3 separate regions of the Homo sapiens genome follow, and all the other regions are linked to region 1. Evidence: fine-mapped expression QTL. A gene starts in region 1. Each other region holds a variant in brackets. All regions are shown on one strand. Distances are from middle to middle.

Region 1 (11,165 bases):
TTTCCAGAACTTGGAGAATTACAGTTTCTTTTTAATATCTTCTCCTTATAAAGCCTGTCAAACACTAAAATTCTGTTGACCATTTTTTATTTTTCTATATTAAAAGAATGCTGAGGTACAAATGTATGAGAAAATTAATATTTGGTTTTTATTTATTTGTATTTTATTTATTTTCTTTTTTGTAAATGGTCTCAGATACTTTCTTTTGCTAAATGGTGTGATACAGATAAATCCAATAAATATAATAATTTACTTAATTCATTATCATCAGGAAGGCCTGGAATTAAAATTCTTGATTTTGAGTTTATAACGGTTTCATTTCACTTATTACCTCTACATATGATCATTTTAAATGTCAGACTAATTGAACTACTGAATTGAATGCAGGCTATTAGCATTAAATGAGACTCATGCAATAGAATATAAAGGTATTACACTGTCCCTATTTTGTGCACTGTTTAATAATCTTAGGTACTTAGAATTTTTAGATGTGTTTCTAATAAATATTTTTGTAGATACGTCTTGACACAAGTGTTATAAATGTTTCTTACAGATATAAAGATCATTTCAAAGTTTACTCTCATAGATTTCTGATACGTGTAAATTCCAATGTAGCTCATAACCATCCAAATATTTCAAGTCTCAGAAATGCAGATTACAATAGTCACTGTTACCCTGAGATTTTCAAAGCTGATTTTCTACCAGTGATCAGTGGGGCCATACATATATTTCTACTGCAAATATTCTGGAAGGCTCTGCTCTCTGGAATTCCCATTCCACACTGATCCAATAAAATCTGACTTTACAGATTTTCAACACGTACCATGAACCAATCCCTCCTCCTCGGCTGCTCTCCAACTCAATAATGGCAGTCACATTCATTACATTTAGTGAGTCAGACTTTCCGCCGTGCCTAAGTCACTCCCAGCTAGTATGGCAGGTGTGTGATGAGTGACGTTAGCTGTTTCAGGAGTCTAAAAAACCGTGTAAGTTTAAAGCAGCCATGGTAATGCCCTACTGGCCTGAAAGAGTAAACCCACCCTCCATTAATGCCTCACATATGACTTCTGTGTTGGAGAGAAAAGAATGCAGAACATGTTCTTTTAAAAAATAAAGCAAAGGCTTATTATAATCAGAGGATTTGTTCAAAATATTTATAAGTCACTTTAAATAACACAGTTGTTTCCTATTTTTGCCATTGGAAATAGTGGGATGTTAAGGTAGAAAAAATAAGAAGAAATTAGTCTTTATGACACTGGAGATTTCATCTCTTTTTTAAAAACTGCCCAGAAATAACATTAAGCATCTATCTCAAAACCACAAAACCAATAAATACAGAGTTAGAAATGCCACTACATCCTTATTATCCCTTGGTTAGTGTGCCTTGCCCTTTTTCTCTGTTCACAGTTGCATAATTATTTTCTCCCTGGAGAACATGGAGGTCAATCTAAAGTCAAGACTGGCTCTAAATGAATGTGCTGTCTATGATACCTGGCTCTCCTTCCAACAAGACAAATGTGGTTGTGCTACATAAACACACAGGAGAAGGCCAGTCACACTGCAAGTCACAAATTTACAGGCATATGAAATAAGACATCCCAGAGTCCGTGACTGTGAGGCTGATAACTAATGAGCTCTCCAATTAGAACTTGGAGAACTGGTTATACACTTTGGAAACAGAATAAAATAATCAAAACTTTTAAGGTCAGAGATACAGAATTTTTCAAGGTCTAAGATTCATACTTTGGAAATCTACTGCACACTATTGAGGTTCAGGGTCTGGAAACCCTAAATTTAAACGTCTTCCAAAAAGCAAAAAAAAAAAAAAACTCAAGCCCCTTTGTAAGAGTTCTGTCTTTTAAAAGTTTGTTAACTTAGGTCAACACTAAATCCGCGAGAATGCTCCTTTCGTATCTAGGTTATGTGGTTGTTGATATAAAACCAGAAATAAGAAAGTGGTTTTATATAAATGCCTAAGAAATCTTGATCTTCATAAGGCCCAAACCTCAAGCAGAGTTAAAAGCCTGATAATTTGCATAATAACATGTGGTCTCATCTGGATTTTTTACAGAAAAAGTGGTTTTGAGTTATCTAGATAATTGCTCTACTCCTCCCCTCTTCCAATTTGTATTAATAGACATAGAAAGATAAAACTTTCAATTATCTTTGAAATCTTTATCATTATTGCCCTTCAACAGAGTCTAGAAGTGAAGTCTGAACTGACTCAAACCGGTTGAGTCTTCCCCACTATTCAAATGGGGCCGCGTCCCGATTATCAGTGCAATGTGATCACTTGATTTTAAACGCAACTATGCGTCCAAATGGCTGAGTGCAAGAGGTCGGCCGGAGATAGGGCCGAGTGCGCTGCCCCAAGCTGCGATCCCTGCCAAGCACTCACGGACAATGCACTGGTTTCCTCCAGGGAGCGTCTTCCATCCAGGGCAGCAGTAGGAGTGGAATCTGGAGCCGCACACGTTGGGCCTGTGATGGACAAGCGCGGTCACGTAACAGATAGGTAGAGGGATGCAGCAACATATAAACGGTCTTCGTAAGCAATGCCCCGAGCGAGTAGATTTCAGGACAACAAACAAATCAAAATTACACTTCAAATTATTGGAGATCGGGAGGCAGACGTGGAAGCAAAAGAGCTAGATGCTGGAATGCAGGAGGGTCAGAAATGTCTAAACACTGCCTTTCATCTGTCGTCCCTTGCCTGCCTTTTTAAAGGGCGAAAAGAGGCATGGAAACATATAATTTGCTACTATTCTAGCTTCCAGATGCAGAGAACAAAGGGACCATTCCGTTCCAAAGAATCCTTGCCCTCCTTCCCAAATCCATTCCTCCTTGGTCAACTGTTACTTTGGCCCCGACGTGTCAAGGAAAGCGCGTCGCAAGGTGGAGCGCTCGGGTTGACGATGAGAAGGTGAGCTGTGAACCCTGCACACGTCCTCAAACAAAAGGCTCACGAGCGGCGGCCCCGACGTGGGGAGCAAGCAGGCTTCTCTGGCCCCTGCAGCAGGCGGACCCAGGCCCGCCTGCCGCCGGACATTCAGAACCTGTTCCCGCAGCGCGAGCTCTGCACACGCTCTGCGATCGGCACCCCTGGACCCCCTAACCACCCGCCGCCCAACCCCCGGAGAGAGGGCTTTCCGCCCGCTGAGCTGCGGGGTTGGGAAGGAAAAGGGGGACGCGCTCCTGGGGGTCTTTGGATATTCTGGCAAAGGGGGCTGCAGCTCTAGGCTCCAGCTAAAGGGTCTGGGACGGAGTGGGCCAGAAAGCCGCCAAACTGAGGATTCCCCCCTCCCCCAAGCCGGAGCCCTAGGTGCGGAGCCGCTTGCCCACTTACCCTCGGAGCACGTCCTGCTGTCCTCGCCGGCGGACGCGGCTGGCCACTGCGGCACCCTCCTCGCGATACTCGGGCGCTAGAAACCCGCCTTCAGAGCCTGCTGTAGCGGACCGAACCTGTTGCGGCGGCGGCTGGGGCCGGGGCGGCTTGGGCGGAGGAGGCTGAGGCTGGCCGGCCGTGCCCTGCGCCCAGAGCACCACACAGCCCAGCCACAGGAAGTAGAGCTGGAGACACAGCCTCCGTCTTCTCCCCATCGCCGGCGCCGAAAGCGCGCGGCCGTAGACCCGCGGAGAGGGAGTGATCAAAGACAAAATCTGCGCGCCTCAGAAAAGAGTCAGGGTCTAATAAGCCCTTCGTCGGCTCCGGGGACTCCCTCGGGCTCGGGCTCCCTGCTCTAGCTGGAGACCTCGACAGAGCGCCGGCCCCCTGACTGCCCGCGAAGCGAGACGCGGGGCGCCGGGTCTAGCGCAGTGAGCGGCGAGGCGCGGCGGAGGTGCAGCCGGCAGCCCCGAGCGGTACACGTTGCATAACCGGCCTAAAGCCCCGAGCGACTCCAGGACCGTCAGCGGGCGGGGGAGGAAATTACAAAAGCCCTGGCGTAAAATTTCAAAAAATGTGAACCTCAAAAGAAAAAAGGGCCTGCACGCAGAGCTCGGCGGATTCCCGTGCGCTCCGAAGACGGATATTGGAAAGCTGCAAAAGTCACCAGAAAGAAACAGGCAAGCAAACAAAAGTCGCCCCCAGAAGAAGAGGAGGGTTCCCTCCGGGCTCGCTCGGAGTCCCACAGGGCAACGAAGCGCGGGTAGCGGCTGCGGAGCCGGGCGGAGGTGCGCGGGGCCGGGGCGTGCGGCCAGCAAGAGAGAGGGCGGGAGGCTGGGCGCTGGAGAAGATGCGGCGGTGGAGGGCGCGGCGCGGGGGTTTTAGAGGCCCGGCGGGGCGCGGGGCGGGCCGGCGGGCGGCGGCTGTCAGTGGGGGCGCGGCCGTCCACACGTGGGGCTCAACCCGGACTGAGAGGCCGGCGCAGAGTGGGCGGGGACAGAGTAAGGGAGAGATCGGGACTGAGGAACGAGGGGAACCAGGGTTGGGTGAGGGGAAGAGGAAGGAAGGGGGGGAGGGCGAAGGGAGGGAAGAGGACGGAGATTGGGGAGAAGGGGGGCGAACCCGAGAGGAAGGCCGGGCTGGAAGAGGGACTTGGAAAGAGGGATTGGCGAGCCCGGGTGCGAGAGGAAATGAGCGGGGGATGGGGGCGAAGTTAGGGCAAAGAGAGAAGTGGGAAAGGAGAGGGAGGGCCAAGGTCCGGGCGCCGAGAGGAGGGGCCCGGGGGGCCGGCTGGAGGGGGCGAGGCGCTAGGCGGCTTTGCTTCCCGTCCCCGTCAATTGGCCGCTAGCTCTGTTTTGACTGCCTGTACAAAGCGAGTAGACGGCGGGGGATGGGGCGATTAGGGACCGGATTTGGGAAAGGAGGCAGCAGCCCCTTCCCCTCCCCCTCCGTCCTCGCCCGGCCGCGGACCAGGGACTAGGGTGCCTAAGCGCGCCAGGCTTGGCCGGACCCGCAGCTGAACTGACCCGCAGCTGAACTTCCCCGCCGGACAGAGGCCGCAAGGTTGAGGATGAGAACGGGTCTTTCTGTAGGGTCCCGGCCCCTGACCTGGGATGGGGGGATTCGCAGTCAGCCAGGAATAGAGGCTCACGGGGCTGTTGGTTGCAGCCTCAATCCAAGAAGGAGGAGACCTCCCCTTTGCCCTCCTACCCCCACCGCCCCACCGGGAGCGGCGTCAGTCTGCGGGACCAAATTAGGGGCTGGGAGTTTCCAGATTGAAATGCGCCCTCCACCACCAAGAGGGAGCTCACGCGGCCGCGGGGGGCCGAGGCAGCCAGCCGGCGCCGCGGTCCTGGGGAGTCCGTGCAGGGGTGTGCTCTGGTGTGAAACCTGGCAGGACTCTGCCTGGGCTTGCATGCAGGGAGGGGTTAGAGACTCTGAAATGTACTAGCGGGCAGGGTGGTGACAAGGCGGGTAAATGAGGCTCGGGGCATGCCCTTGCTTCCTGGCTTGGACCCCTTCTGATTGATTAAATCCTAGCAATTGGTGCAACCCTCTGTACCTCTTAGAGTGCCTCTCACCGGCCTGCTCTGGGTTCTTCCTTTGTGGCCCTCCTTTCATGAAATCTCTGTGAAGTCCTGGTCATTTCTCATTTAGTGGAATATCACAATTTAAAAATCAAACACTCCTGAAAACAAGGAGAGACCATCCAAGCACAGTTTGCGAAACAGTACAAAAGAGCAGTGTCTGGTTTATTCAAGCCTAGAAAACCTTAGTTTAAAGGGGAAAATGTTGAATATGTATAGGAGGGTGTGTGTGTGTGTGTGTGTGTATATATATACACGTACATATATACATATATACACATAACATATATATGATATATATCATATATCATATATATCATATATCATATATATGATATCATATATATGATAGATCATATATGATATATCATATATATGATAGATCATATATATCATATATATGATATATGATATATGATATATATGATAGATCATATATGATCTATCATATATATCATATATCATATATATCATATATATCATATATATCATATATATCATATATATCATATATCATATATATCATATATATCGTATATATCATATATCGTATATATCATATATATCATATATCATATATATCGTATATATCATATATCATATATATCATATATCATATATATATCATATATCATATATATGTATTTCTGGCCCAAATTGCCCAGATGTGCTATTTGACAGCCAAAATTCTCCAGTAATTGGCACAACTCCCTCCTTTATTTCTCCATGTAGTCAAAGGGTCTGAAGGTAGTACCCCTTGTTACAGTATTCTCATAAAGCAGAAGAAAAGATAAGAGTTACATAATTTCATGTGAGACACCGATTTGTTAAAATCCAGAGAAAGAGCAATACAGTTATTTTCACGTACTTCGCTTCAAATAATAAAATTATTTAAACTAAAAGAGCTAACTAATGTAACTATCTCCTGGTTTAAAGCAGTGTTTTAGTCATACCATTTAAAACATCCTGTATCTGCTTTTTTTGTTGTTGTTGCTGTTGTTTAATACTTACGTGGCTTCATGGTTCATTCCTGTCCATCACATTAAATCTAAATGCTCTAGAATTGCCTATGCCTTTACCCTTTGATCCAGCAATTCCACTTTTAGGAACCTATATAAAAGATACATAGACAAAAAAAAATGAAATGGTGCATACATTTGACTGTTCTTTGCAGCACTGTTTATAATAGTGAAAGACTAGAAACACAAACTTCCCATGAACAAGCAACTGTTGTGTATGACTTCATCTATTCAGTGAAGTATTATGCAGCTGTCAAATATGAATGAAGAGAAACTCTGTATGCTCTTAGAGAGTGATCTCTAGCATATACAGTCTACTAAAATAAAAAAAAAGCAAGGTACAGATAGACTAGGCAGTTCATTGAGACAAAGTAGAATAAAGGTTACCAGGAGCTCCAGGAAAATGGGAAGGATGAGTTATTGTTTAGTGAGTACAAAGTGGTCTGCCTAGGATGATGAAAAAGTTAGAAATGGATAATGGTGACGGTGGTCCAACATTGTGCATGTACTTAATGCTACTGAATTGCACGCTTAAAAATGATTAAAATGGTAAATTTTATGTTATGTCTATTTTTTACAATATTTTTTAAATGAAAGCTGTATAATATTGTATGCTACTTTTTAGGGGTATGAGTGTGTTATAGATTTAACAACAAACAAGAAGTATAAACTAAATCTAATAAAAAATGGTTATCTGTAGAGAAAGGGGAGACTATGAGGAAAGAAACAATGGTGGAAGCTAAACCTTTCTAAATAAACTTAGTTTTATAGTTCTGGCTTTGGAACTATGTTCCAAAGACCTAGAAATAGTGACAACCCAAAAACCATAAGGTCATTGTGACCAGATTGTGGTTCCTAAATACCATTTCTAAATTAAAGGAATCAGGGTTCCTTGGGTGAGTGGCAGATTCTAAGTCTGGGAAAGGAAATGCATAAAGTGAATCTGGACTATCTGTCTTGTCATGCCTGAAAGCAAGAAATTATCTGACTATTAAGGTCATGTCAAAAGGAAACCTGAGCTAAGTTGAAAGAGATCTTGCTGGTTAAGGATGGGGAAACTTGAGCATCAAAAAGAAAAAAGAAATGACAGCAAAAGATTGAAATACATGAAGTGTGTCAGTATTCAAGATTTCCGAATGATACTCCAAACAAAAATTAGTTGGCCACTTTTGGAGGTTGTTAGGGCACAGCTCACTATTCTAAACGCATCGATAAATAAAATTATTAACCAGTTATTCTTCCTTTGCTAGAAAGACCCAGAGAAAGTATTTCTTTTGAAAAAAAAAAAAAACCACAGTTGTAAATGCAGGAATGATGGAATTAGAAAAATCACTACTTGTAAACCCTAATAAAATAATGGACCTAGGCAACGGTTTTTAACAACTGCTAAAACCATTAGGTAAGAAGTGTTCAACTTGTGGCCATTTTTCCTCAGGGTATATTTGGCAGTAATTGGAGACATTTTTTATTGTCACAACAAGACAGTGTGTGGGAGTGGTGATGAGAGTATCAGAGATGCTGCTAAACATTCTACGATGTACAGGCCAGTCTCCCATAGCAAAGCATTATCTGGTCCAAAATACAAATTTACTTGGGAAGCCGTGCATCAAAAAGTCAATTGGGAACTTTTTAGTGAATGTGTCAAGCTGTTACCACCAGAACCTACTGATTAATTATTAACTTATGAAAAGTAAGACAACCAGACATTATGTTTTTATTTTTATGGTGCAATAGGAGGTACACAGACCACCTATGAAATATCTTTGTCAAAAAAACTGAGCCTGAATGTAACCATATCTCTACATTTAACTCCCAGTTTCCAAGAACAATAGAGGACCATGAAACATATTAAATGATACCTTGAGAATATAGGTAACCAGATCTAGAATGGGATATACCACAAGACCAAGTTCTTCAAATAAATGACATCAGTAGAGAAGAGGGAGGGGAACTGTTATGGCACAACCACCAAAAGCAATGCTTGCCCCTTATCTGGGATTTTGATATGAATGTTAGTGAAAAATAACATTTTTGATGCTATCATCCAGTCTAGTAAGTCTTATTTATATGGTTGCAGCTACAGTCAATATATAACTGCAACTGCGTGAGACACCCCAAGTAAGAACTACCCAGGCAAACTCTTCTGAGTTCCTGACCCATAAAAGGCTAAGGCAAAATAAATTTTTTAAACCTATAACTTTAGGGGTAATTTGTTATGTAGTGATAGAACACTGAACTGAACACTGGTTACTAGATATTAAATATTTATTTTTAATTTTGGGAGATGTGACAATGGAATCATTGTTATATTTTTAATATACTGGCTAATGTTATACTTACTAAAGTCTTTATAGATGAAATGATAGGATGCCTGGGTTTGATTCAAAATACTGCAAGAAGAACAAAGGCAGAGTGGATTAGATGTACTTTATTCCTCTTGGCAAGTATACTTAACTAAACATAAATAAATATATGTGGAGAGAGAGAGCATGCACACATAAGAAGACTGTAAATGGTAGGGAGAAGAAGGCAGACTAGTTACCCTGCTAGTGACCTTGGAACCTGAGGAATGACATGATGGTGGTTTTCCTGAATTGTCTTTTGCTTTTTGTATCCCAGAATGAGTGCTAGGAAATCTGGCAATTTGGAAATGCCATTGGCAACAGACCAAAGAAAGCCTCGAAAGAAAGCCTGCCCTCTCTAGCCAAAAGACAAGAAAGGGATAGCCTAGAAAGACAAAACACTTTTAGACAATAACTGCCCTAACCAAACCACAGAAAAAAACTGTAGTCACCTTTACCAACAATGGCCAAGTAAGGAGCCTAGACTTTCATCCTTACCAGGGTGTAGCAAGGTATCCCTCCCCTTCTCCTGGATAGTGTCAGAGAAAGCCAAGTGGAAAGCTCAGACTTTCATCCCCCTGCACAGTCGTGAGCCACCTTCTCCCCATGGTGTCAGTGGAGAAGCTGGACTTCCACCTCCACCTAACAGTAATGAGATGCCCCTGTCTGCTGGGATGGTGTCAGAAGATACCTAGTAGATGCTCAGGAATCTTCTCACTGCCCAGCAGTAATGAGGCCATCCCACCACCACCAAGGTGTCATGGAATATCATGGGAAACTACATTGGGAGCAGTAATGAAACACCACTGTCCTAGCCAGAGTGGTACAGAAGAGCTTGAGTGGTGACCCTGTACTGTCACCCCTGCCCAGTAATAAATAACAAGTTACTCCTCCCCTCAAGAGTGTCAACAGAGGCTGCATGTAGATCTTGGACTTCCACCGTCATCTAGCAGTAATGAGGCATCCCTTGCCCTGTCTGCCCACCATTGCAGTATCAGAGGAGGCTGCTAAAACAAAGAATTTAAATATAACCCAAAGTCTCACAAAATAAAGTAAAAAATGTCCAAGATTCATATACACCTACTATTTACCAGCAATTTTTTTTAATTCCAAGATTCAACTGAAAATCATTTATCATTGAAAGAACCAGGAAGATCTTAACTTAAATGAGAAAAGAAAATCAATACACATCAACACTGAGATGACACAGATGTTAGAATTGTCTGACAATATTCTTAAAGCAACTACAATAAAAATGCATCAGTGGGCCATTGTAAAACTCTTGAAACAGATGATAAAAGAAAGAAAGTAGAAAGCATCAGCACAGAAATAGAAGACATAAAGAAGAACCAAATGAAAATTTTAGAATTTAAAAATAAAACAAAATTTTAAAACTTAATAGATGGGTTTCACAGCAAAATTCAGAGAGCAGAGGAAAGAATCAGTGAACTTGAAGATAGAAAAATAGAAATCACTCAAACTGAACAATGAAGAGTATATACACTGAAAAATCAAACAGCCTTAGGGAGCTATGAGACTATAATAAAATATGTAACATTTGATTATCTGAATTTCAAAGGAAGAGAAAGAGGATAAAGCTGCTGAAAAATTACTTGGAGAATAAATAATGGTGAAACATTTTCAAATTTTGGGCTTTGCATAAATATACAGATTCAATAAGCCTAATAAGTCCTAAACAGAATAAACCCAAAGGCATTCACATCAAGACTCATCATAGTCCAAGTTTTGAAAATTAAAGGCAAAGAAAAAAATCATGAAAGCAGCGAAAGAAAGGACACTTTACTTGTCCTTTCTGGAAAAAAACAATTCAAATGATAGCAGATTTTACATCAAAAAGTGTGGAAGCCAGAAGGGAGTGACACCCATTTCTTCAGTGCTGAAAGAAAGTAAAGAACTGTCAACCAAGAATTCTATACCCAGTGGAAATATCCTTCAGAAATAAAGGACACATGAAGACCCTTTTAAATGAAGGAAAACAAGAATGTGTCTCCATCAGACCCACCCTAAAATAATGGCTAAAGGAAATTATTTAATCAGAAATGAAATATTAACCAAAGGATTCTTGAAACAAGAAGGAAGAAAGAACAAAAAGAGGGAATATATGGAAAAGTATGAGTAATTACAATAAATTTTATCTCTTGATTTTTCTAAATATGGTTCATACAAAAATTATAACATTGTCTCAGGTATATATAAGAAATATTTAAGAAAATTATTTTGTAAACAGAGGAAGGGAAAGACACATAAAAGGTGGTAAGGTTTCTATACTGGTAAAATGATAATACTAGTAGACTGTGATAAGTTAAAGGGG
Region 2 (11,165 bases), 720 kb before region 1:
AATTGAGAATATATATTTGAATAAAATAGAAATATCAGGAAAAAAAATAGAATACACATATGTGAGTTCTAACTTCCCATGCAATATAGCTGAAACATAAATATGGCTTTTATCTTTCTAACAGCCAAAGGCAGATCAAGGAAAATGATCAAATAAATAATTAGTGTGTTGGGGGGGATGCTACCATTCATTTCTGTTGAGTTAAGCCTAAAATGAGATTCTATGTTGAATTTCATATAGGGAATATTGAAAGACATAGTGAGGGGAACACTCATGAACATATCAGACCAGCAAATGTAATAATTGGTTTTATTTGGCTGTTTCTGTAATTTCCATCAAAAGAAGCCAAGGACATAACATGTAAATAGTTAATCTTTCCTTATTGTAATTCTAGGCTAGCTAGTATTGCATATAGTTTTAATCCCCAGCTATTTATGATAATCCAGCTGGCAAAGTCTACTGCAGTCGAAGGCCAAGTAAGTAATGTAGAAGAGGGAAGATGGTCAGAACCAGTCATATGGGTCTGGAGGGTGCCTGACTCACATAAAAAGGAGAATAAAGCCCAAGATCACTAATTTTTCAGACAATGAAAATCCAGATTTTTGGTGTGAAATCTTCTCATTTGTAAATGTTTTCAACTGATTTGAATAAAACAGATTGCTCTGTGTGGCAAACAAAATACATTTATTCATAGCCTAAATATGAGCCTTACACTGGATTTTACATTCAGGCTGCTATTTTCTTACATCTGTTCTACAATTTGAAAGATGTTCTCCAAAAAAGGCCAGGAATAAGTGAAGGAGAATTAGGTATTGTGGTGGTTGTTTCAGCCACTTTAAGTTTGCTAGTTAGATAATGCTAGCTTTTGTAACACATAGATCCCAGAATTTCAGTGCTTACCACAATAGAAGTTCATTTCTTTCTCATTCAAATAACAGTCCATTGTGGGACTTGCTGGTGGGCAGACTCTGCCCATTCATTGTTATTTAGTGTCATTCTGTGATAAAAACTGTTGGAGCCTCTGCTGTGCTCAGCATGTAGGATCCAAGGTCATTTTGGGGTCATCTCTATCCCAATTGGCCAAAAAAGAAGAGATTGTTGAGGTGTGGGCTTGGAAAACTTCTAACTGGTCATACGTGGAAGTGGTGCATTGGTTAGAACTCAGTCATGAGACCACATTAATTACAAGGAATGCTAAAAAGGGTAGTCTAGCTGTATACCCAGAAAGGAGAGGGGAATATGGATTTTTGTTAAGCAGCCCTAACATAAAATACTCACTTGTTAGAGGTAAGGCAAAAGTTGGCTGTAGTCTTTCTGATGGTCAAAATAATCATTTATAAAAACAAAAGCGCATCCATGGAATAAAATCAAGCCCAGCACTCAATGGAAGCAGCAACATTACTGGTGCAGGAAGGCATACTACCTAATAGAATAATAAATGTCCTCACTAATAACCTGACAGTAAACACAGTAATAAGCTTCACAGGGCAGTTTCTTATAAAATCAAATCTGACTCAGGCTCCATGTGTCATGTGTTAGCAGAAAGTTCAGTTTCGGTCATTTGGGAGGAAGGGTGGTCCTCTCTCCCTCCTGGGATTTGCAGAAGTACCCCAGTAACTTTACTTGCCAAAAGTTGGGGCCACTAACTTCTAGTGGGTTGTGACTTTCCTTCCCTCTGCTCCATGTCCATGCCTATGGGCCCATTCAGAGCCTTGTGGCTCTTTTTATTCAGTGCTAAGCTTTAACAGAGGGTTTATGGCAGCTCCTGGTCTATATACAACACTCAGCATCAGGCCTCTTTACATATAATTGCCTATTTCAGGTCTTATTACCCAAAGGACCTGTGTACAAGTGGAGTACGCTCTCTGCTGTCTTAAGAACCCCCAATACTTAATCTGCTCTAAATTCTGAAGCAACTTCCTCCCCTTAGGTTTTTCTACTTCCTTTTCTTTTTCAAAGCACCAATCTCCATTCCCTCCCTTGTTGGGGCATTTTCAGGTTGTTTTATTAATGAGACCAGGTTTCCCAACCAAAGGCTTTCCAGATGCTCAAACTCTACCACAAAAGTTAATTTCCTCTCCTTGCATAGGAGTTGGGGGTAGTGTTGGTAATGTAGTAGCAGCAATTCCTCTTTATGAGGAAGTTAATGTTTTAAGGCTGAACTTACTTGAAACTTAAGGGATTTTTTTTAGAGGGTTGTGTACTTAGTAATGCTTAGATAGGAAGGCTTAAACAGAAATGCTTAGACAGAAATATGTGCTTAGATAGTTGAGTCAAAATGTGATATATTTTTATTTATTTTGTTCGCGAATGTGAAGAAATACTAAAATTATTAGGTAAAATAAAATCAAAGCTGTAAGCATTAGTTCTTAGCACTGAAATTGACTTTGCCTACTCTTTCACCTGTTAGATATCTTTTACTCCCCAGTGATAAGTTTATTATCATCAGATTTACCAGGTGGTAACATACATAAGAGGAAATGTGAGTACCTACACCAATAATCATGATACGTGATAGAGTCATTGGCAAGGTCTGAGAAGAAAAGGGAGACTCAATAAATGCCTGTCTCTCCTCTCCCCAGCCTTTCCTCACACTATACACACCCTCCATACACACTGCTCCCTGCCCCAGTAAATTGGATGAGTTGACTAAATATTTAAGAAATTCTTGAGTATAAACTGCATGTATAGAACATTTTCCCCTCTGAACATTCAAGACAGACTGCTTTGGTTTAGAGCCCAGCTCTACCAGTTACTAGCTGAGTGTCTGAGTAGATTGCTTGATCCTGAGGCTTAATTTCCACGACTGCAAAATGGGGATACTAAATGTATCTAGCTCACCGATTTGTCATGAGGGTTAAATGTGTTAATTTTTATAAAATCCTTAGACTGGTACCTACAACACAATCAATTTTATGTAAGTGCTTGCTAAACAATAAAACAAAACAAAAAAATAAAACAACAAAACCAGCATACATTTCCATGTTTTGCTCAGTGGTAAGTTTTAACCACATTCTTTGTGAGAGAATGCTCTGAATGTTCAGCATCGTGATTATCTGTAAAATGGAATAATGGTAGAACCTACCTCAACAGGATTATTGTGAGAATTAAATGGGATGACACTGGTGAAGAGCTGAAAGTGGTCCTGGGATATAGCCAGCCCTCATTAATGTTGATGGTGATTATCAGTGCATCGGTGCTGCTGCTATTGTTGCCTTGTCCTGACCCTCATTTGCTACATATGCTTTGACATTTATCTAAGTGTTTAAAAGCATATATTTTTTGGTACCAAATTCCATTTTATTGATTTTAACTCTTAATTATTTCACTGTCTTCAAAAAAAATACATGTCCCTGTTGAGCCCAAGATATTACTCACTCATTCTTTCTGTGCACGAGGAGAGCATGTAGGAGACTGTTTTGTTTCTGCCAAAGGAGGAATTAGTACGGGGCGTTTCTGCTCACCTTCACTTGAGTAAGAACACAGTGATTGCTTTAGGCAGAGGTCAATGCCATGGGGAATGGAAAACTACTGCCTACGAGTTTTGCAACTGAAAAAGACAATCTTTGATGTTTCAAGGCAATTCTGACCACACTCTTTTTCCTCCACCTTTGCTGCCCTAACCTTTACTTTCTCAGCTTCCTGGAGAATGCCCTCCTACCTGTTTATCTCTAACTCTTGCTTGACCCCATAACCAAATGCCCCAACTGGGAATTTTTATGATGCATATTTCCTGTGCTCAGTGCTAAATCAAATGCAGCTGATTTTACCGTTTCTTTGACATCCATTTTTGGATGCATGTTCCTGGAGACATTTGTGTCCCTTTAGAGTGGGAGCCCGTGCAGGGCGGAGAAGGGCCTGATGGCACACACCTTTCCATGAGGCCCTTTTGACGTTACTGTTCACCTTCCTCATTGCGGGGGCCCAGGATGGGACTTAAACTGTCCCTATTTCATTATGTTGTTCTTTTTCTGCTTTAGCCTTTCCACTCTCAAATTCTCTTGTCAGGAATTCCTCTAGAAGCACCCTCAAGGAAATTGAATGAAAAAACTCAGAATTTTTGAAAATTTAAACAAGTAAATTTTTGTATAGTTTCCTAAAAATCATTGAGGATATCAATACCCTCTTTTGCAAAATAAAAAAGGAAATTGTTTCTAGCTTTAAATTTTATTTAAAATTTAAGTAACTGCTCATCTGCAGTTTTTTATCATTTGTAGTGTTTCAAATATAAATAATTCTATGTTTTGCCCAATCTCTTCCCTTTCTTTTATGTGCCATTTACTGAGGGCTGACATAAATCCCACTGGGAGACTACAGAGAGTAAAAAGCGACCTGGAAGAGTTTGCTTGAGCCTTTATGACTGAAAAGTTTTGTCATAGTCTCAGAATCTGTAACAATACTCAGTGACCATATTTAAAAAAATGATTCAGACAGACTTGTTCAAGCAGATGTGATTTCTGCAAGGATAGCCAGGTCAGAGTCCACAAATGGTTTAAATATGAATCATCTTAAAAAACAAAGAAAAACTAAAATAGTAACTCTACACTTCTTAAACTTTTTCCATTAAAAACTCATGACAATATTGTGTTATAGGAACTAAGAAGGACCTGAGCTTCTCATAGAAAGGATACCAGTAAATCACAAAATCCAAGAAGAGGCAAAGGAATGTAAAACCAAAATAAATAGTTATTAATTATTCATTCTTCAACTATTTTTACTGATCCTCACAAGCCAGTTTCTCATCCTTCAGGCTTAGTGGGTGCAGGGAGCCTTGGTTGTGAATTGCTATTGTCTGTCCTCACAGAAGAACTGGTTTAGAGGAAGGATTAAAAGGAAAAGCAGGAGGAGGTTTGGAGGGTCAAACAGGGAGGCTGCTTCAGGAGTAGGGGAGAATGCAGACGGCAGTAAGGGCAGGAGTGGGAGCAGGAACAATGTGAACAGTGAGACTAGAAGTTCAGTAGAGGGAATAGTCGGAAATCAGAATAGGAGGCGTTATTCTTCTTTGTGGAATTGCTAATAAGAATACAGCTAAATGTTTGCATTAAGCATTAAAAACAAGTTATGTCCAGTTTGAGCCCATGGGCATGTTTCCCCCTCAATGCTCTTTCCCGCATAAAACACACTTCCCCAGAGTGTGGAGCTCAGGAGGTAACCAAAGTAACCAAAGAACTCTGCCATGGTAACCCTTGCAAGGCTGCCATGTTGAGTTAAAGTGATTGTTGTGGATAAAAGCTTCACTGAATGGAAATGGAGGGTTGAGATTTTAGCCTAAACAGTAGCATGTTTAATGCTTATAAATGTGTAGTTTTTAGTTAATTGGAATAGCTAAAAGCTTAGTTGGGAAAAGACTCAGTAACATTTTGGGAGATCTTTCTATGACTTCTCCAAAACTGTGTTGCCCGAGGAATTTACTTTGCCTTTCAGCCCTGGATCTTAGAATAAGAATTTAGACTTTAGAATGACTTTCCAGCAAAGCAATCCCTTGCTGGTTAGTTTCAAGTCTGACATGTTTGGAAATTTGTGCCAATGAAATTCTAGCTGCACAGCTCCCACTGTTCTCCCATTCATGTCCTACGTACCTGTGTTGTCTTAAACATTGTTGAGGGTAAACAGTTGTTTTCAACATCTTCAGTATGGCGAATTTTTAAAAATATTTTTTAATTAGTTTTCTCTGATGGGTTTTTTTTATTTTTATTTTCAAGACAGTATGTGTTGGGAAAATTTCTGGCCTCAAAATATAATTCTTTGCACCTCTCATGAATAAATATTATGACAGAAGGATCTCTCTCTTTCAGCAATGACCATGTGTAGCCTTAAAAATGCTCAGTAGTAAGACTCTAGGCTGGTGTTTCTCTATCTGAAACTGTAGGTTCATGGGCATATTTTCAGATCTGTGTGGTGTATTAATAGACTGTGTG[A/G]CCTGGGAGCTATTGTACACATCAACTTTAACATATTTTAGAAAGAGTCGATGGATATTTGTGTGCCATTTTCTGTTGACTCCCGCATAGCAGAGCAAACTAAATCTGAGGAAGATGGTGAAACGTCAGAACAGCAAGTAAAATTCTTCCTCTCTCTTGCTGGATTTCATTTAGGAGCAAGTGATCAAAGAGACTGAAAACCTGGAATCTTGAGGCTGGGTCTGTCCATTGGCACATTTGGGGATGATAGGGGGTGGGGAAAATCAGGTTTTACATGATTTCTATAAATTCACAGAGTTCCTGCATGGAATCTACCTTCAGCTTCACAGAAACAATCTTCTCTAAGCCTTCCAGATTGCCCACAGGAGTCTAAGGAGTTTCTTTAAAGAGAGATGTATGGGCTGGCTATGGCGGCTCACACCTGTAATCCCAGCACTTTGGGAGGCTGAGACGGGTGGGTCACGAGGTCAGGAGATCAAAACCATCCTGGCTAACAAGTGAAATCCCGTCTCTACTAAAAATACAAAAAAATTAGCCAGGCATGGTGGCGGGCACCTGTAGTCCCAGCTCCTCAGGAGGCTGAGGCAGGAGAATGGCATGAACCTGGGAGGCGGAGCTTGCAGTGAGAGTAGGTTGCACCATTGCACTCCAGCCTGGGCAACAGAGCGAGACTCTGTCTGAAAAAAAAAATAAAAATAAAAGAGAGAGATGTACAAGAAAGAGAATTTGTCAAAATCCATGACTGATTATATTTGGGATCAGGTGTTATTAAATATACAGTATGTATATAAAAAGTACAAAAATCACATATTTTGTCTCTAAAAGGTTTCATCCATCATTGGTTAGATAAAGCTATTAGACAATGTACTTTAAAGAAGTTGAGATACATTAATATGTGTTAGAGAAAAGTAATGAGGAGGGGAGGGGCTTATGATGGACTTGGCAAAGAAATCATGATTTGGAGTTAGTGTTCTGGAGAGAGTGACTTAGAAATCAACATACTGTTGTGTGGATAAATATTTTATAATTAGCATTAAACATTACAAAGGGTTCAAATTGCATCAGTAAAGCTTTTTAGAGGGAATTTGCTCATTGAACCATGAAAAGGGGGGATTTTCTGCAAAGGAGGCAGACAGAGATTTGCTAGGACCCTAAAGCTAATAAGCAAATTTGGGATAAGCTTGTACTTAGTTTAGCTTTAGTGGGGCTTCTAAGGTAGAGTCCTGTGATATCAGTCATGTTCTTGTTTTACAGAAATACCAGTTTAAGCAGAATAGGTATTAAGTGAAGGCCATGGCTAACTCTCACTCTCCAGGAGAGCCAGAGAACCAGATTTGGAAATGGAAGCTGAAACAATGGTCAAATCACACCACAGAACTTCCCCAGGTAGCTTCCCACTGCTGTATAGTTCTAGCTGGTACCTCTGGCTCTGTGCACTGGAAGCCTCCACTAGAACTTTTGCTTCTAAACAGGGTGTTTCTGCTGTGAACAGAGGGCACATAGCAGCTATTCTTATCTGAATTCTGGCATAAATGTTTCAAGCCTTGCACTGAGGATGCGAGGGAGGCTTCTGCTTTGAGAAAGTGAGGTCTCAAGGTGGGGAAATAACCAAGCTTAGGAAAAGTGTTCAAAGATGGTTGGCAGGCAAAAAGAATGCTATAGTTCCATCACACCCAGTAAGTTTGTGGGTCTCAGATAAAAGAAAATCAAGGCAAGTTCAACTGTAGGCTGGAAAAATATTAGAGTTCTTAATGATTGACTTATTCCATGCTATTTGTTTCTTTAAACCTTGTCCTTCAATATATCTGGATTTAAATTTGTCAAACAAAGGTGATAATGTGATATTATTAGTTATTCATATTGTTAACATTTTTCTTATGAATCATAATTGATTGGATGCTGTGATAGTCTTTCTTTTCCACCTATTACCGGGTGCAATGTCACACCTGTTGGCAGTTGGTGGCTTACAGGTACAGTGCCTTGGAGGAAATAGTGACACCCTAATAAAGTGATTCTCAAATTTAGTGAGTCTTAGGTTCACCTGAAAGCCCTATTTAAAATACAGGTAGAAGAGTTAAAATATGACCCAGCAGTTCTGTTCCTAGGTATATACTGCAGAGAATGGAAATATGTCCACACAAAAGCTTGCACAAAAATGTTCATGGCAACATTATTTACAATAGCAAAAAACTGGTAACAACTCAAATGTCCAGCAATTGATGAATGGATAAACAAAATGTAAAATATTCAACTAATGGAATATTATTTATCCATAAAAAGGAATTCTGGTTCATACTACAACATGGACAAACATTGAAAATACTGTGTTAAGTGAAAGAAGCCAAAAACAAAACTCCACATATTGTAAGATTCCATTGATTGAAAATGTCCAGAATAGGTACTGGTTGCCATTGGCCTGAGGGGGTGAGATGGATAAGGAGTGAGGGAGTGACTGCTAATGGATATGAATTTATTTTTGTATTTATGAAATGTTCTGGACTCCGTAGTGATAGTTGCACAACTTTGTGAATATACTAATATTGCTGAATTGTACACTTTAAAAGGATGACTGCTATATCTCAATAAAAAATAAAAATGAAAACAGATTCTTGAATTATTTCCCAAAGAATCTAAATGCATATCTAGGATGAGGGCTGGAAACATGTATTTTTATTTGGATGCAGCTGATCTCTGAACCACGCTTTTAGAAACATTGCATCTAGTCCTTACATGTGTAAATCTCCTAAGCTATGACATTGTAGAAGTAGTCATACAAATCCACAATTCTTCAAAGTTCATGACCTTGCTTTAGAAAATATCCGTAAAAATAGTACAAATTACTATCAGAAGAGTCTTCAGAATAAAGTATATGAAAAAACCCAGCATAGCTTTTTCCCAAATCACTGCTCTAAAATCAATGGGCGTAGTGATTTTTAATCAACATGATATTTACATATTTTTTTGCTTATAACCTGCTTGCACTCTGGAATAAATAAATTGCTACCTCTTAATGTCACTTGATAAGAGTCTAAAATACTTGAATTTGAATATATAAATCCATTAATTTAGCAAAATTTTAACATCAGTCTTATGCATTGGGTTGACATACTAAAGACTGAGTCTCTAGGACTTTGTCATCTAATGCAGAGGTTTTCAACCTTGGCCACCATTGAAGTCAACTGGGAAACATTTTTTTTAAAAAACGAATCCTGGGTTCTACTCCTAGACATCCAAAATTCTATTGATTTGGAGTACAAACAAGACATGGGGACTTTTAACATTTCCTCAAGTCATTCTAATGTGCAACCAAAGTTTGGAATTACTGCTATCAAGAAGAGATTACATAGAGACCCCATACATAGGTCTTATAGCACATTATGACAAGTGGAATGATCGTGGCTGTCAAAAATTACTATGAGAATTCAGAGGAACCATCCCTAACCCAGGGTGGAGCTGGAGACTGCTCCAAGAAGCCATCAGGTATGCCAGTGATACCTGAGCTGAGTATTAAATTAGGGAGAGGAACTGTCCAAGGGAAGATGGGGGTGGGAGTGATCTAGGCAGAGGAAGTAGCCTGTACAAAGGCAAGGAGAGTTGAAAGAGCCTGGATGTTAGCTAGGGGAAAGGACTGGTAAGGAAAATCCCAAAAGGCATGTCACATATTTTATAGCTGGCTACAGCCATTGGAAGTTTCCTCAGAAACCAACTTGAGTTGGCAATGCTGGGACTTTCAGGTCATGACATCTTCTTGCTTTGTTTCATTTGAGGAAAGGCAACAACTCCTTAATACCCCACATAATGGATTCATAGTAGAAAAAGAAAACCTAGCAGTGCTGGGCTCTTCCTGTGAGATTATTAACTGTTGAAAGGGATCCTAGCTTTCATTATTTGTAAACTGTTTCATACATGTCTACCCATATCCATTTCAATGTCACTTTTCCGGAAGTCCCTGAAACCCATGGCTCCAGATAAAGACCCCCTACTGTCCCTAAATTAAGCCACCATTGAAAGCAAGGAGGGTACACGCTAAGGCAACTACTAGGAAGCGCGCTAACAACGACTTTCCCTCAAGAGATGCCTGCTTCTTTCTTATCCCCAAAAGAACTTCAGGGCTTGGGTAGGCACCACATAATTATGTCAACAGACTCTGCTCTAGGTTCCTGACTCTGTATTCTTACTCTCTCCCCAGTCAGATTGCCATACAAATACAGGCGGTTCTCAGGTAGGGTAAATAACCATGTTATTTCCACAGGAATATTTGAGATTGTAGGGAGGTTGCCTTTATCTGGCAGGGTGGAGTCAGTGATGTGATAATATATGTTATCTTTTTTGAGTCTGGGTGGTCACTTCCATCATGTGACTTTAAAGACCTAAAATGAAAGAAGTTTACATCTTAGCAAACATTTAATGCCACAGTGAAAGATAGCATGGGAGCCAAACCCTCTGATGGTTGTTTCTTTTTAGATGTCTTTACTTCTAAAATGAATCTATTTTATAGATTGCACCATAGATTCTGAAATCCTTTCATGAAGAAGTTTGCTCTTTCTTTAGACCACCACCACGATCCCTATAAAACAATTTACAGGGAGATTCAATAGCAGGTCCAAGGTTAGAGAATCATCTTTGTCATACTTTAGGCAGAAGGAGGTTTAGACTCCTGCTCCTCTGCACAAATGAATAGTCCATGGTCTATAAGGTGCTTGCACTTGCACAGGCAGCCTTAGTTTCCATTCTCAGGGATTATCTTTATCCTTGTTTGTTTTCACAAAGTATTTTAAAGCACACACGCACACACACTCTCTCACACACGTACATCTCTAATATTGAAACTTAACCTTAGCATTTCATCTTCATACTCTTACTGATTGTGTTATTTTAAATGTTCTTATTTTGAGCAGATAATGCTGTGAATTATGTGTGTGAGACTGAACAAAGATAATTTCCCTTAGAACTTTTTCTGTACATCTATGACATTTCATTCTTATTACATTTCTAAATAGGTTATTCTTTAAAACAATTTTACTCAGCCTTTGCTCTGCAACCACAAAATATAGCCAATGAATATTTGGCCAGAAGGTCAATAATATAAAGGCATATAAATTTTAAAATGTCGGCTGGGTGTGGTGGCTCACGCCTGTAATCCCAGCACTTTGGGAGGCCGAGGCGGGTGGATCACCTGGGGTCAGGAGTTCACGACCAGCCTAACCAACATGGAGAAACCTCGCCTCTACTAAAAATACAAAATGA
Region 3 (11,165 bases), 39 kb after region 1:
AAGAAAGAAGAAAAAAAGCTGGTCTCAGAAGCACAGAAACTAGAACTGGTGAGTCACATGAATCTATAGAATCAGCTCTGCTAATTCCATACAGATGTCCTAGTGCATTCCTGTAAATTTTCAGACTGAAAAGGAAATGTTAGTTACACCCTTCCCTTTTACAGCCCAGGGTAAAATATTTCACATATTGTACATATGTTTTGCTAGCAGAAAAAAAATTACAAAAATTAAGAAGTAGTTATTTTGGGCTTAGTATTTTACCATTAATATTAAAAAACAAGTGTATTTAAAATCATGATTTTAAATGAAAGCACACAATCTCTTTGCAGACATCAATCCCTATATTTCAAGTATAAAAGTATAGTTTGTATCCATTTCTAACATGCCAAATAATATAGTTGTCATGTGGTTATGTTTACTGTAACCACAAGAAGATAGATATGATTGCTCTTCATAGATACTGACAAGGGTAAAAACATCTGTGGAAGGAATTACGCAGTGACTAGGATAGTGCTGCCTGATCTCTTGGCTGGTATTTCTGTATTCTCCAGACCAATAAATGCAAAATGGCTTATTAGCTAATAGGCCCATCTGCAGATGGACCAGTGGGCTCGTGGCTCTGGGTCAGGTGTTGAAGAAATATTTGGTACCCTCATATTTTTGCTTTGATGGGGGATTTAGAAATCATCTAGTCCAGGGGAGGCAAATACATAGTATGGCTGTTGACCCTTCCCCTCCAATAGTCTTCTCCACCAAGCCTGAACTTGACTCTCAAATCTTTCTCAATATATTATTATGGCTAACCATTACTACTCAAATAGAAATGCCACATGTCATGAAGATTGTTTATCTTCCCTGATTTAGTTCAGCTCTCTAATTTTTTTTTTTTTTTTTTGAGACAGGGTCTCACTCTGTCAACCAGGCTGGAGTGCAGTGCAGTGGTGAGATCACAGCTCACTGCAACCTCCGCTTCCCGGGCTCAAGCGTTCCTCTCACCTCAGCCTCCTGAGTAGCTGCGATTACAGGCAGGCCACCATGCCTGATTACTTTGTATTGTATTTTTGGTAGAGACAAGGTTTCGCCATGGCCCAGGCTGCCTCAAATTACTGAGCTCAAGCTATCTGCCTGCCTCGGCCTTCCAAAGTGCTGGGATTACAGTCCTGAGCCATCACTGCGCCTGGCTGCTCTTTCATTTTTGGATGAGTAAACTGAGGCTCAGATAAGCTAAGAGATTGGTCGGAAAGAGACCGACCACTTGGCTATTAAGTGGCATGAATGGAATCTGAGTCTCTGAATTTAGTCCTGAAGACTTACACATTAACAGTGCTCCTGTGGGTAAGACATGGGATTTCCCTAATAATCATTAATGAGTCAACTAATATTCAAAGGCAACTGAGACCCGGAATCCTCTGCTAAAATGCTCAGCTTTGGGTAAACCATCAAGGTAGCTTTGGACCCATGAATAGAACCATGAATCTGGAACCTGGTATCAGAAACTAAACTCCTATGGTTTTCAAGAGGTGTAGTGGTAGGCAGGGCAGATGGCTCTGAGTCATGGTTAAAACATTCAGAGACATGTAGATGGTAAGTCTTGGAAGCAGAGAAATGAAGGGGAGTTTACAGGTTCTGTTTTAAGGACTTGCAAAAGGGACTGTGTTTATAGCACAATGTTTAGAGATAATGCAGCAGGAGCTGAAAGAGATGCTTGTTCCAGTTATCCAGTTTGTTTGAGAAGCTTGTCAACAGGAAACAGTGATTTGCTCTGCACATATGTTTAGATTGGAGAAACATTAGCAGTAAGACTTGCAAGAAGGTGCTGGGCAGCACAGTTTCAAAAATTGAAATAAGCTAAAGCAGGTTAGTATAGGGGTGATGTGTGGCTAAACAATCCTTCCAAACCTTAGCAGATGTCACCGGCCAACAGAATTCTCAGTTATCAGTAGCCACCTGGCTGACTCAGGAAAGGCCCTGGATATATGGCTCAGCGTGTCTTGCATCTGAACCTCTTGTGGAGTAGGATGCTGGAGGAGACTTGGAATTGGCTTGCTCTTCACCGCCAGTCCAAGGCCTTTGCCAGAGATCATATCCCTGACCTGAAGTTATTGAGCCCTTGGCGATCATCAAAAACATACATCTAGAAGAGCCAGTATAGATAGAACAACTTCACAATCATATTAAGCCTGCTTTGGACTTCGGGAGTTTGAAATATCCTATCATTTTTCTTGGTTATCACAAGAAGTTAGGGTGAGGATGCAATGCATTTTATGACAATGTGCACTGGTCTCTTTACATTACCATCTTTCTACATTTACAGGAGTTAGAAATCTGGAGGAAAGGTATTCCCTTCAATGCTGCACACAGGTGTTAGCTGGGAACACTGGGGAGGCACTAAAGTGTCAGATGAAAAAAAGCATGACAAGGAGCCTGGCTCCAAATCCTGATCCCCTCCTCCCTCTTGAATCCAGGTGCTGCCCACCCTACCTGCATGGCAGGTATACCTTCCCCAGTTTACACTTCTGAAGGTTTTGCTGAACCTAATCAGGCAAGGCTAGACAGTAGAATAAACAGACATTCAGAAATAGTCACACACTCCACCCTGTAAGAGAGTGGGAGATTTGGAGGGTGAGCAGACTATGAGTAGGGGAGACCCTAGGTGCCACAAGAAAATATTACAGTCTCCTTAACCAGAAGAAACTACAGTCAAATACATTGAGTCTTCCCAGAACAAGATTGGAGGAAGAGGCTATGGTTGTACCTTAAGCTAATAGTCAGATTTTATTTTGTTGAACCTTCTGGATGGACTTTTGGTTTTGCAGATTAAGGTCAGTGTATGGAGCACGCTCTGAGAAAAGCTCTATGGGGATGGATTGAGAGGGGCTGAGAGATACATAGAAATGTGACAAATCCTTTAGACAGTCAAGCTTTAGGGGAAATAGTGATATTGTATCAGTCAATACTTTCTGGCAAAGAACAGATGGCATATCCAAATTAGGGTAATTTGAAGAGAATATAATAAAAGGACTGTGAAGGCAGCATGTAGGAAAACTATAAGAGATACTGTAGAATCCCTGCACTAATAAGAAAAAGACATCATTGTCATTCCTAGATCTGAAGAGCAGGACTTGTTCAAAAGCTAGAGTCAGCAGGGCCTGTGATGAGAAGGCTGCCTACAAGGGATGAAACCTCTGTGGTGGAATGAAGACGACCCAGGACAACCCTGCAGGATATAGACCAGGGGATCTCAACCCTGCTCTTGCTCCTGCTACAATTTGCCATTGACCACAGACAGGAAGCCCAATGATGTGGTCAATGCAGGTCAACCTCCTAAGGCACAGACAGGGTGGAGAAGGGTAGAGAGAGATAGGATCTGAAGGGGAAATGGAAGATATTCAGCACCAATTTTTGAAGAGGATGTTTAGAAGATTTTGCTATATCATGTGGGATGTAAACCAATATTATTCCATCACTCCATGAAAATGTCAGTAAAAATCAGCCTTATTCATCAGTGCCTCTTGGAAGTAAATGTGTGTGAGTGTATGTATGGATGCTTGATGAAGGGCTTTATGAGGTTAACTTTAAGGCAGGTTCCACGTGAGGTTTAGCCAACAAATCTCAGTTGAATTGGGTTACCTATATTTGAGAGATATTTAGTTAATAGTGTTCCTTTTTAAGAAATAAGAGGGAATTATTTTCCCTTTTAACTTACTCTTTTTTAATTTTTAGTTTTTTTGGATTACATAATAGTTGTATATATTTATGGGGTACATGTGTTTTTTTTGTTTGTTTGTTTGTTTTTTTGAGACAGAGTCTCTCTCTGTCACCCAGGCTGGAGTGAAATGACACAATCTTGGCTCACTACAACCTCCGCCTCCTGGGTTCAAGTGATTCTCCTGCCTCAGCCTCCTGAGTACCTGGGATTACAGGCACCTGCCACCACGCCAGGCTAATTTTTGTAGTTTTAGTAGAGATGGGGTTTTGTCATGTTGGCCAGGCTGGTCTCGAACTCCTGACTTCAGGTGATCCTCCCACCTCAGCCTCCCAAAGTGCTGGGATTATAGGCATGAGCCACCATGCCAAGCCACGTGTGATATTTTGATACAAGTATACAATATGTAATGATCAAGTCAGGGTAATGGGATATCTATCAACTCAAGCATTTATCATTTCTTTGTGTTAGGAATATTCCAATTTTACTATTTTAGGTTTTTTGAAATGTGAATAAATTATTGTTAACTATAGTCACCTTATTGTGCTACGAAACACTAAATCTTATTCCTTCTATGTAACTGTATATTTGTGCCCATTAACCATTTCCTCTTACCCCACCTCCCCCATACACATCCTTGCCTTTGGTAACCATCATTCTACTCTGTATCTCCATGGGTTCAATTTTTTTAGCTTCCACATATGAGTGTGAACATGCGATATTTGTCTTTCTATGCCTGCCTAATTCCATTTAACATCATGTCCTTTAGTTCCATTCATGTTGTTGCAAATGACAGGATTTCATTCTTTTTAATGGGTGTATAATATTCCATTGTGTATATGGATCACATTTTCTTTATTCATTCATCTATTGATGGACACTTAGGTTGACTTTATATTTTGGCTGTCATGAATAGTGCTACTATAAACATGGGAGTGTAGATACCTCCTCAATATACTAATTTCCTTTTTTTTTTTTTTGATATATACCCAGTGGTGGGATTGCTGAATTATATGTTAGTTCTAATTTTAGTTTTTTGAGGAAACTCCATACTGTTCTCCATAGTGGCTGTACTAAATTACATTCCCACCAACAGTGTAGAAGCGTTTCCCTTTCTCCACATCTTTGCCATCATCTATTATTGCCTTTTTGATAAAAGCCATTTTCACTGGGTTGAGGTGATAAATAATTGTAGTTTTGATTTGCATTTCTCCAAAGGTTAGTGATGTTGAGCATTTTTTCACATACCTGTTGGCCATATGTATGTCTTCTTTTAAGAAATATTTGTTTAGATCTTTTGCCCATTTAAAATATCAGATTGTTGACTGGGTGCAGTGGCCAATGCCTGTAATCCCAGCACCTCGAGAGGCTGAGGTGGGCAGATCAGTTGAGGCCAGGAGTTCAAGACCAGCTTGGCCAACATGGCAAAAACCCATCTCTACAAAACTACAAAAATTAGGCAGTGTGGTGGCACACACCTATAATCTCAGCTACTCAGAAGGCTGAGGCATGAGAATTGCTTCAACCTGGGAGGCGGAGGTTGGAGTGAGCCAAGATGGTGCCACTGCACTCCAGCCTGGACAACAGAGCAAGACTCTGTTTCAAAAAAAAACAAAATAAAATAAAATAAGATTATTATTATTCTTTCATACACAAGGTCTTTCTATGTTACCCAGGCTGGAGTTCATAGGCCATTCACAGGTGTAATCATGGCACACTGCAACCTCAAACTCCTGGCATCAAGTGATCCTCCTGTCTCAGCCTCCTGAGTAGCTGGGATGATAGGTGCACACACCATGGCTATCACTATTGAGTTACTTTTGACTTATTCTTAAAGAAACTCATATTAATTAAAAATCCTATAACTCTCTTCCTGTCATTGGTAAAATTAAGACAAAGCATTACTCTGTGGCTTATGGGCTGCAGGTATTCTTGGATTCATGACTGGAGTACTTTCACAGTTGGGCCCTGCACCTAAGATGGTGCATTTCACAGAATAGGTACTCATTTTGTTGGGCTGAAATAAACAAATGTGTGAATGAATAAATGGATTGAAATGTTCTTGATCCAAGCTGGTGCTTGCTTCTGACAAGATAAGGCAGGGGAGTAACATGCCCCTCTTCAGGGGCAGAATGCCTTCTTTCTTTTGTTTCCCCTCCTTGTGTTTCCTGTTCCACCTCCTGGAGATAGGGGAGTTGAACAAGCATGGTGGCCAAT[A/G]GAGCCTAGCCATTTTGACTCCAGCCAGAAGCAGACAGGAGAGTTTCCCCCTTCCAGACTTGCAGACCTGTAGAAGTCTGAGGAAACATTTCTCTCTACGAGGAAAGCTACCTGGCTTCCCTTTCCCAGACACACAAATAACCCACCAGCTACCATCCATTCCCCTGTAGAAGAATAGCACCCCTGCAAGCTCACTGTCTGTGTTTACAAGAGAGAGGCCTTTCCTTGTACACAGGAGTGGATGGCAAAGGACGAGGCTTCATGAAGACTTCGTTGTGGGGTCCGATTTTCTTGCCTATGTCATTATACTTCACTCTGATAATTCTGCAGCATAAAGGCTGTATCTGAATAAAGTGACAGTTTTCCTTGTTTAGAACTATGTCTAATGTTACGTTTTCTTAACTGCCAGTGCTGGTCTGTGAAACACAGTGAGTCTTTCAATGTACTTTGGCAACAGCTTTTCCACTATTCCTGTATTTCTTCCGCCATTGCTTTCTCATCATCGATACAGATGTCTCTATATTTTTGCCAATTTATTTGATGGTGTGTTAACAACTGTTCTAAACAATTATGAATCTATTCTCTTTTAGTTTTCACGTCAAATACTTTATTAAGCAATAAATCAACCCCGGGAAATAGATTATGTAATAATCTGCAAACATCTTTACTCATTTTTCCACGAACCATAAAAATTTCATATATCTCTGCCTAATGACTAATTTTTCAAGTATGTTCAGAGGACATTGTTCCTGGTATTGACTTACTAGATGATGCTAGTAATTGCATTTTTTGTGAACCTACTCATTCTTTATAGTTACTGCCTTATTAACTGTTGGTGTTCAATGAGCTTATCTCTAGAATCATGCTGTGGTCTTTCATGTGCAGTGTTGTAACTTAGTTTCAGAGATCTTTTAAAAGGATTATTAATGTTAGAGCAACTGATAAGTCAAAATTTTATGTGTGTAAATACTTTTCAACTTTATTATGCTATTTCACTTGTGTCTCCCTCTGTGACATACATGCTTAGATCTACCAATGGGGCTCTCATCTCCAAAACATTAACCTGTATTTTCATCTTTACAAATTTTTCCTAGCCACACAGCCTAAAAAGCAACAACTCCACCAGTGCCCCCTGACTGAGGGATTCAGAGCCTCAAGTTTCCTCCAACATTTGTATACCGTCACTGTATCCCCAGAAAAAGTAAAATAATCCTCCTGATCTGATGGAATCACAAGTGAGTTAGCCTTTAAGTAGTTGACTTGACTTTAAAAAGCACACCGAGTCACAGCATTGGCATTGCAGCTGGGACATATAAAAAGCTTGGAAGCTGTCACTCCCATCCGCAGAAGAATAGTGCTGAACAACCTGAAAACCAATGATTTTCCTTAGACTCATCAGAGAATTGGGGTCACAGGGCAAATTGTCGCTGTGAAATCTAGAGAGACAAGTGAATACAGAAAATTGCAGTCAAGATCAGCTTATCTGGAGTAAAAGCTGCTGGAGCCATAAACTGATAGGAACACTGATAATCTATAGTCTATACAGTTGGAGGGCACACAAAATCCAACTTTAAAACTTGCTATAAAACCACAGTAATCAAGGGAGTGTATTATTGGAAAAACAATTGATACATATATCAATGGAATAGGATAGAGAGCCCAGAGATAGACCCATGCAAACATATTCAATGGATCAAAGCAAAGATGATCAGAGCAAAGATGATTCAATGGAGAAAGATGGTCTTTTAACAAGTGGTGCTGGAATACTTGGACATCTATATGCAAAGAAGTAATCATACTTTACACATGTCACAAACACAAACTCAGAGTGGATCATATATTTAAATGTAAACTGCAAAACTGGAAGATAACATGGGAGAAAATCTAGGTGACCTTGTGTTTGGTAACTAGTTTTTAGAAACATCACGAAAAACACAATCCAGGGAAGGAAAAATGGATATATTGAACTTAATTAAAAGGAAAAAAATGTACTTTGGGAAAGACTAAAAGAATCACCATTAACAGAATGAAAAGAAAAACTACAGCCTGGGAAAACATATATGCAAAAGACATATTTGATGAACAACTTGTATCCAAAATATACAAAGAATTCTTAAACTCAATAATAAAACAATTCAATGAAAAAAGGGAAAAGATCTAAATAGATACCCCACCAAAGAAGATATAAAGTTGGCAAATAAGGATATAAAAATGTTCAGCATGATTTGTCATTAAAGAATCACAAGTTAAAACAACAAAATACAACTGCACACCTCTTAGATGCCTGCAATTAAAAAAAAATACTGACAATACCAAATGTTGGTGAAGATGTTAAGCAGCAGAAATTCTCATTAATTGTTGGTGGGAATGCATGGTACAGCATTTTTAAAGACAGTTTGGCTGTTTCTTACAAAGCTAAACACAATCTTACCATAAGGTTCAGCAATCATGCTCCTACCTACTTACCCAATTGGTTGAAGACTTATATCTATGCAAAAAACCTGCGCATGAATATTTTTGGAAACTTTGCTAATAATCACGCAAAACTGAAGCCACCAAGATGTTTTTCAGTAGTTAAAAGAATAAACAAATGGTGGTATATCCATGCAAAGGAATATTACTCTGGGATTTTTTTAAAAAAGGGCTTTTAGGCCACAAAAAGTATGGAAGGAACTTAAATGCATATTGAAAAAAAAAGCAGTTTGAAAAGGCTGCATACTGTATAATTCCAATTTTGTAACAGTTTGAAAAAGGCAAAACTGTAAAGGCAGTAGAAATATCAGTGATGGCCAGAATTCAGGGTAAGACTGTGATGAGTGGAGATGAATAGATGTAGCACACGGGATTCTTAGGATGTTGAAGCTATTCTGTATAATACTGCAATGGTGGATATATGACATTAATCATTTGCCAAATCCCTTAGAAATTTACAACCCAGAGTGAACCTTAATATGTGTGAATTTTTAAAATAGTTTAGGAATTCAGGGATCCCAGGAATGAATACAGATAATGATAAGATAATTACACTGTATAACAAATATCTAAAACAATCTCATTGAAGTTGGTAAGGTAAAAGTTGCTGACCTAAGTACCTATGGACATAAATAGAGTCTGTTAGACTAAAGACAGAGAGAACTACTCAAAAGGACTGTACTCTAGTTGATAAAATACAGAGATAGAACTTTATCAGAGATATAAGTTAGAAATTATGATACTTCTGTTCATGTTTTCTAGAATAATAGATGGATGGCAGATGGTGGCAGCTAGTTTTCTCACTGTTGGAGTGGGAATTTAGATAAGCAAGGGGAGGAAGCCAGAACACTTCCCATGGTAAAAATTCAGCGATGGAGACATCAGTAATAATTCATGTTTAAAATGATAAAGATGGTTATATACAGAAACATTGATTGATGTGTATATATACATGAATTAGATACATACATATATTTCTCTGCTCTGTTACCTGGAAGGTCCTAAAAGAAACGATACCGTAGTAACAACAATCACACCTAGTTCCTAGTGCCCAGATCTTGTTTTCTAGTGTCTTTATCCATTAAAAAGGAACCAGTACTCTTTAGAGAAGTGGCTGTTTCTAGTACTGGGGCAGGAAATATACAAGATGAGACTGAAACATCTTGTAATGCCAAAAAGTAATAAAGTGCTCAAGATAAACAAATTAACAAGCTTTTTTTTTAACCTAGACACACACACACACACACACACACACACACACACACACACATTGTGGAATATAATGAAAAGCATAGGTACCAACTGAAAGAGCTTCCAATGGTCGAAGCAGGAAAATTTGAGTAACAAAATAAATAAATGGTGTTGAATTGTAACCCAAAATATAAAGCAACCATCCATAGAATTCATACTAATATAAATAAATTATTGACTGATACGGTTTGGCTGTGTCCCCACCCAAATCTCATCTTGAATTGCAGTTCCCTTAATCCCCACATGTCAATGGGAAGGACCAGGTGGAGATAACTGAATCTTGGGGACAGTTTTCCCCATCCAGTTCTTGTGATAGTGAGTTAGTTGTCACGAGATCTGATGGCTTTATAAGGGGCTTCCCCATTCACTAGGCACTCATTTCTCTCTCCTGCCACCATGTGAAGAAGGACATGTTTGCTTCCCTTTCCACCATGATTGTAAGTTTCCTGAGGCCTCCTCAGCCCTGAAGAACTGTGAGTCAATTAAATCTCTTTCCTTTATAAATTACCCATCCTCAGGCAGTTCTTTATCACGGAGTGAGAATGGATTAATACATTGACTAAGTTAATATATTGGGGAGAAGACACAATTATTTCATGCAGAAAAATTCCAAAAATTATGTAGTTACTCCAACCTAAAGACGGAAGAGAATAACTTCCTACTCTTTAAGTGTAGGCTACACATAGTAACTTCACTCCAAAGATTGCAGAACAAAAAGTGGGAGAAAAATCATAACTTTACAGTGGAGAAACCTGAAAGACACTATTTCAGCCATATGATCAAAGTCAGTATTCATAAATCATAAATCATGTTGCTACTATGCAATCTTGATATGACGTGACAAAAAAATTACTTTACGTTTGCCTTCCTGCTTCCCCAAACCCATAACCAGCCCCAGCTTAATGAGAAAAACATCAAATCCAGTAGAGGGGATTCCTACAACATGCCTGACCAATGTTCCTCAAAACTGTCAAGATCATCAAAAATGAGGAAAGTCAGAGAAATTGTCACAGCCAGGAGGTGCCTAAGGAGACAATGACAACTAGATGTAATTTGGTACGCTGGATGGGATCTTGGAACCGAAAGAAGACATTAAGTAAAAATTAAGAACAATCTTAATAAACTGTGGAATTTAGTTAAAATAATGCATCAATATTGATTAATCTGTTGGAACAATAGTCCCAAACTAATGTAAGATGTTAACAATTGGAGGAACTGGGTGAGGGTTGGGGGACATATGAAAACTCTCTTTACTATCTGGTTGATTTTTCTTAAATCTGAAAATTTTCTTTTGTTTTTTTGTTTTATTTTGTTTTGTTTTTGAGATGGAGTCTCACTCTGTAGCCAGGCTGGAGTGCAGTGGCACGATCTTGGGTCACTGAAACCTCTGTCTCCTGGGTTCAAGCAATTCTCCTGCCTCAGCCTCCTGAGTAGCTGGGACTACAGGCACATGCCACCACACCCAGCTAAGTTTTGTATTTTTAGTAGAGATGGGGTTTCATCATGTTGGCCAGGATGG

What was found. PIP is the estimated chance that this variant, and not a neighbour inherited with it, causes the effect.
Region 2: its variant is the best candidate, but not a certain one, in a credible set for the expression of FBN2 in whole blood (INTERVAL, PIP 0.86).
Region 3: its variant is the best candidate, but not a certain one, in a credible set for the expression of FBN2 in whole blood (TOPMed, PIP 0.78).

Annotation. Positions count from the first base shown.
Region 1 is chr5:128,534,004-128,545,168 of GRCh38, forward strand. FBN2 (fibrillin 2) reads right to left here and starts at 4,242. Exons shown (of 65, transcript NM_001999.4): 1 at 3,347-4,242; 2 at 2,399-2,481. The coding sequence starts at 3,600. RefSeq lists enhancers at 1,912-2,842, 4,568-5,068.
Region 2 is chr5:127,809,270-127,820,434 of GRCh38, forward strand. The region is part of intron 5 of CCDC192 (coiled-coil domain containing 192); the gene reads left to right. Among named protein-coding and RNA genes, the nearest start is that of CCDC192, 110 kb to the left of the region's middle. The variant A/G (reference allele first, on the strand shown) is at 5,919.
Region 3 is chr5:128,572,648-128,583,812 of GRCh38, forward strand. No RefSeq gene overlaps it. Among named protein-coding and RNA genes, the nearest start is that of FBN2, 40 kb to the left of the region's middle. The variant A/G (reference allele first, on the strand shown) is at 5,924.